Linked DNA regions of Homo sapiens: region 1 is linked to region 2. The links come from fine-mapping of genetic effects on gene expression. A gene starts in region 2. The other region holds a variant in brackets. All regions are shown on one strand. Distances are between the middles of the regions. Region 1 has its middle 6.2 kb from the start of MIR4645. Region 2 holds the start of SERPINB9 (serpin family B member 9).

Region 1 (2,750 bases), 43 kb after region 2:
ACATCTGGAGTCTGTCCTTTATTGATGTTCAGATGTATTTGGAGTTTTTTTTTTCTGGTGGGTTCACGGTCTTGCTGGCTCAGGAGGCAAGCTGCAGACCTTCGTAGTGAATGTTACAGTTCTTAAGGCAACGCATCTGGAGTTGTTAATTCACTCCTGGTGGCCTCATGGTTTCACTGTGCTTAGGAGTGAAGTTGCAGATCTTCACCGTGACTGTTACAGCTCACAAAAGCAGTGTAGACCCAAAACGAGCAACAGTAAGATTTATTGCAAAGCGAGAGAAAAGAGGAAGGGAGGGGGAGGAAGGGAGAGGAAAGAGAGAAGAAGAGAAGGAGAAGGGGGAAGAAAAGAAAAGAAAAGAAAAGAGAAAGAAGAAGAAGAAGAAGAAGAAGAAAAAGCTGCCACAGTCTGGAAGGAGATCTGAGCAGGTTGTCAATGCTGGCTCGGGCAGCCTGCTTTCATTCTCTTATCTGGCCCCACCCACATCCTGCTGATTGGTAGAGCCTAGTGGCCTGTTTTGTCAGGGCGCTGATTGGTGCGTTTACAATCCCTGAGCTAGATACAAAGGTTCTCCACGTCCCCATCAGATTAGTTAGATACAGAGTTTGGACACACAGGTTCTCCAAGGCCCCACCAGAGCAGCTAGATACAGAGTGTCAATTGGTGCATTCACAAACCTTGAGTTAAACACAGGGTGCTAATTGGTGTGTTTACAAACCTTGAGCTAGATACAGAGTGCCGACTGGTGTATTTACAATCCCTGAGCTAGACATAAAGGTTCTCCACATCCCCACCAGAGCAGCTAGATACAGAGTGTTGATTGGTGCATTCACAAACCTTGAGCTAAACACAGGGTGCTGATTGGTGTATTTACAATCCCTGAGCTAGACATAAAGGTTCTCCAAGGCCCCACCAGAGCAGCTAGATGCAGAGTGTCGATTGGTGCACTCACAAACCTTGAGCTAGACACAGGGTGCTGATTGGTGTGTTTACAATCCCTGAGCTAGATATAAAGACTCTCCACATCCCCACCAGACTCAGGAGCCCAGTTGGCTTCACCCAGTGGACCCCACACTGGGGGTGCAGGTGGAGCTGCCTGCCAGTCCCGCACCGTGCGCTCGCATTCCTCAGCCCTTGGGTGGTCGATGGGACTGGGCGCTGTGGAGCAGGGGGTGGTGCTTGTCGGGGAGGCTCGGGCCGTACAGGAGCCCATGGAGTGGGTGGGAGGCTCAGGCATGGCGGGCTGCAGGTCCCGAGCCCTGCCCCGCGGGAAGGCAGCTAAGGCCCGGCGAGAAATCGAGCGCAGCGCCGGTGGGCTGGCACTGCTGCGGGACCCAGTACA[C/T]CCTCCGCAGCCGCTGGCCCGGGTGCTAAGTCCCCCATTGCCCGGGGCCAGCAGGGCCGGCTGCTCCGAGTGCGCGGCCCGCCAAGCCCACGTCCACCCGGAACTCCAGCTGGCCAGCAAGCGCTGCACGCAGCCCCGGTTCCCGCTCGTGCCTCTCCCTCCACACCTCCCTGCAAGCTGAGGGAGTGGGCTCCAGCCTTGGCCAGCCCAGAAAGGGGCTCCCACAGTGCAGTGGGGGGGCCGAAGGGCTCCTCAAATGCCACCAAAGTGGGATCCCAGGCAGAGGAGGTGCCGAGAGCAAGAGAGGGCTCTGAGAACTGCCAGCACGCTGTCACCTCCCACTTTGACCAACGTCTCCCCATTCCCGTGTTCCCCAGCCCCAGGCAAGCCGCTTTCTACTCTCTGCTTTCATGAGTTCTAGTTTAGATTCCAGATATCAATGAAATCATTCAGTATTTGTCTTTCTGTGCCTGGGCCTGGTTTATTTCACTTAGCATAATGTTTTCTAAGTTCATCCATGTCGAAAATGACAATTTTTTTTTAAGATTGGATAATATTCCACCAGATATATGTATACCACACTTTCTGTAGCCATTCATTCATGGACAGACACTTGGCTTGTTTTCATATCTTGGCCATTGTGAATAGTGCTCCAATGAACATGGGAGTGTAGATACCACTTCAAGGTAAGGATTTCATTTCCTTTGGAGATATACCCAGTAGTGAAATTGCTGGATCATACGGTAATTCTATTTTTAATTTTTTGCGGGACTTCCATACTGTTTCCCTGAATGCTTGTACTAATTTAAATTCCCAGCAACAGTGTGCAGGTGTTCCCTTCCTCCACATCTGGACCAGCCCTTGTTATCTTACTTGTTTTTTTTTAAATTTATTTATCATGTTATTTGATTTTTAGAACAACTCTAAGCCATGGACAAAGCGGAAGCCATTACCTTCCTTTCACAAATGAGGAATGGAGGACAAAGGTTTAGAAACCTTTGTCCACTAGACACTTGACACTAGACACTTGTCTAAGATCACACAGATAGGAGACTTAAATTTAGATGTTTGATGACGCAGAGATACAGACAACAGGAAGAGGATGGAGGTTAAACCCAAAAGCTCAAGCAAAGGGCTGCTGAGCTGAGCATCTGTGAGGCTGTACTACACTGAAGGGCCTGCATGAGCGACGGTGTGGAGGGAGAAGACCCATAAGACAGTTACCAGAGGGACCAGCCCAGACAGAGAAGGGGCAGGGGACAGAGCCATTCAGCTGGAGCCATACTGAAGAGGAGTTGGAACTTTTTCCAGGGCCATCATTTATGATCAGTGGAGTCACATGATCTCCTTGGAGGCTGGGACACTGCTTAATCCTTTCTCATCTCCCCAGAACCTAACCTGATATTTG
Region 2 (3,012 bases):
TATGATTCAATTTGCATGAAATCTTCACAGTCGGTCAATCCGCAGGGCCAGAAAAGAAATCTGGAGGTCGGAGCCTCTCCCAGAAGCCAGGGGTTGTGGGAAGGAGGAAATGGAGAATAATTGCTAATGGGTATCACAGTTCCTTTTAGGGTGATGAAAACCTTCTGGAGTTAGATAGTGGTGAGAGTTGGACAGCTTTGTCAATATACCAAGAACTATTGAATTGTATGCTTTAAAAGGATGCATATTATGGTCCGTGAATTGTCTTTTAATAAAGGTTTTATTTTTAAAAACAAGCTAGGCACCTAGGGTGTCAAATTGAAGGAGGCTCTGATTCTCAGGGCCGCGCAAATGCAGGGTTGGCACCTATGCGTGTGGCCCTCCTGAAATTTTGTGCCTTAGGCACCTGCCTTGCTTCTCCCTAATTCAGGCCCTCAGGAGAAAGCTCTAATTCTGGTCAATTTGAAACAGGAGGGCACGGCTTCTGGGCGACGCTCCGTGCTCCAGAGAGAGCCATTTGTCTGTTCCCTTCCTCTGGACGTCACCGTGCCAACATGAAATGCTTCCAATTGAGTCCAGCCTGAGATGGAAGGGGGTGGGGGGATATCTGATGACATCACGAACTGCTGCATCAACTCCCCCGAGTCCCTGCCTCTGGACCCCCTGATAGAGGACACAAGGAGTGTCCTGAGCCCGTGTGACTCAGTGTCTCTTCCCATCACTTTGCGGGAAAATGGGGCTGCTTACACCACACCGCAGCCCAAACACCTGTGGCTAGAGAAGGGCTTGGGTACTAGGAGTGAGGACGCCTGGTTCTGGGCCCAGGACTAGTACTAGTTAGTGGTGGGACCTGGAACAAATGCTTTGGTTCTAAGTGAATCCCCCATATTCATGACAAGAGGCGTGGAACACAGACCCATGGGACCTTCCCACTGGAACACGGAGCTTGGCTGTCACCCGACCTTCGCTTCCTTAAGTACAAAAGCCCAGGGTTCCAGGCTCCGTCTCCTTTCCCGCAGACGCCTTGTTTCTTCGCGCGGAGGCCCTGGACGCCGCAGGCTCCCAACCTACTTCTCTGGGCTGTCAGGTTCTGAACCCGGTCCTGAAGAGGCCCTGGCGCCGGGGGTGGGTGAGGCCGAGCGCGCGCCTTGGGAACCTGGCCGGCCTCAGGCTGGCGGGAGCATTGGCGGACATCGCCCCGGGCGGGGCGGACTGGGGGGACCCTGACCTGACCCTGCTCCCAGCTCTGACCTCGGCCACCACGCGCGGCGCCCCCGCTGGTCCCGCCAGGCTCCGCCTAAACGCAGAAAGCGTGGGAGGCGCCCGACCCTGCGGTATAAAAGCGGTGCCTGCAGAGGCCCTAGCGGGAGTCCGCGGCGAGCGCAGCAGCAGGGCCGGGTCCTGCGCCTCGGGGGTCGGCGTCCAGGCTCGGAGCGCGGCACGGAGACGGCGGCAGCGCTGGACTAGGTGGCAGGTGAGGGCGTCCCCGCGCACGGCTGGGGTAGGGGACGGGAGTGGCGAGCTTCAGGTCCACCGGCTGCCACCGAGTGATGGGACCGGAGGACAGGAGAGGTCGCTCAGCCAAGAGCCCCGGGGAGGCGGTGCCTTCTCGGTGGGGTCAGCAACGGTCTCTGGGGGGTGCCTGGGAGCGGCAGCCGGTCTCCGCCTTGGCGGCCCACAGCCACCGCGGACGCCTCCCTCCCGGATGTCTCCTCGCTGCCCTTCCCTGGCCGAAGCCCTCCCCTGCAGCCTCCTCCCCACCTGCCGGCCCTGTGTTCTCACTGCTCTTCTCTGCTCTGGGATCCGCAGGATGACGTCTGTCCTGCTTCTTCACTGTCCTTTACAGTCACCAGTCTCGGCCGGGCGCAGTGGCTCACGCCTGTAATCCCAGCACTTTGGGAGGCCAAGGCGGTCGGATCCTTGGAGATCAGGAGTTCGAGACCAGTCTGGCAAACGTGGTGAAAACCGGTCTCTACTAAAAATACAGAAATTAGCCGGGCATGGTGGCCCACGCCTGTAATAATGTCAGCTATGTGCTGAGGCAGGAAAATCACTTCAACTCGGGAGGCAGAGGTTGCAGTGAGCTGGGATTGCGCCACTGCACTCCAGCCTGGCAGACAGAGTGAGACTTCGTCTCAAAACAAAAAAAAGAAAAACACAAAAAAACCACCACCAACAACAACAAAAAAATAAAGCCACCAGTCTCGGAGTTTCAAATCTGAGCACTCTTATCCATCTTAATTCTTTCAATAATTCAGCTAAACGAATGGGGTCCTGAGAATCTGCAGAGCCAGGCTCAGCGCTCGCCTGCAGAGCCTGCGGTCTGTGGGGACCACCAGCAAGATGAGGAATCACCTTCGGGAGGAAGGGTCGTGCTGGGGAGGGTCGCGCCGGCGGGGTCAAGAGAACCTCCTCCAGGGTGGGAATCAGAGCCTCCGGGCCGCGGTGTTTGAGGGTGAGTGGAATTAATGCCGTGATGGACATGGGGCCTTCTAAGGGGGACCAACAGTGTTTGTGAAGAGTTGACTTTGGGAGGGGTTCAGGATGGCCAGAGGTGGAGGCTGTGACCTCAGTGAGTCTGGATCAAGGGAGGGGGCAGGTGGGTAAGACACCGTTTTAACAAGGTGGCTTTGAGCGGCCACCTTTGAGGGGCCTAAGGGCCCCTGGGAGATTTAGGAGGAAGGACAAGAGGATTAAGACACCGCTTTCTGAGGTGCCGTGTGGCTGTGGCGTGGGGGTGGCTGGGGGAGTGGGTTGTGTTCATTGTCCAAGGCTCTCCAGCGCTTTGCGTGGCGTTTTGGGGAGCACAGATGAGGTGTCCCGACAGTGGGGAGTGGCTCTAGGGAGACCAGAGGCTCGGGAGGGGGCCTGGGCATTAGACCAGGCACAGAATCCGAAGTGGGAAGAAATGTGGGCGTAGAGGGCAGGCCTTGGGGATGGGTGTGGGGGAGGAGGGGGAGATGGAAAGGAGTCAGGGAGGTCTCCCAGGCTCACCTGGAGGAGTCAGGGTCT

What was found. PIP is the estimated chance that this variant, and not a neighbour inherited with it, causes the effect.
Region 1: its variant is the best candidate, but not a certain one, in a credible set for the expression of SERPINB9 in whole blood (INTERVAL, PIP 0.58).

Annotation. Positions count from the first base shown.
Region 1 is chr6:2,858,895-2,861,644 of GRCh38, reverse strand. It overlaps the pseudogene SERPINB9P1. Among named protein-coding and RNA genes, the nearest start is that of MIR4645, 6.2 kb to the right of the region's middle. RefSeq lists an enhancer at 2,487-2,750. The variant C/T (reference allele first, on the strand shown) is at 1,343.
Region 2 is chr6:2,901,663-2,904,674 of GRCh38, reverse strand. SERPINB9 (serpin family B member 9) reads left to right here and starts at 1,366. Exons shown (of 7, transcript NM_004155.6): 1 at 1,366-1,474. RefSeq lists silencers at 1,171-1,220, 1,321-1,400, 1,641-1,690 and an enhancer at 1,401-1,902.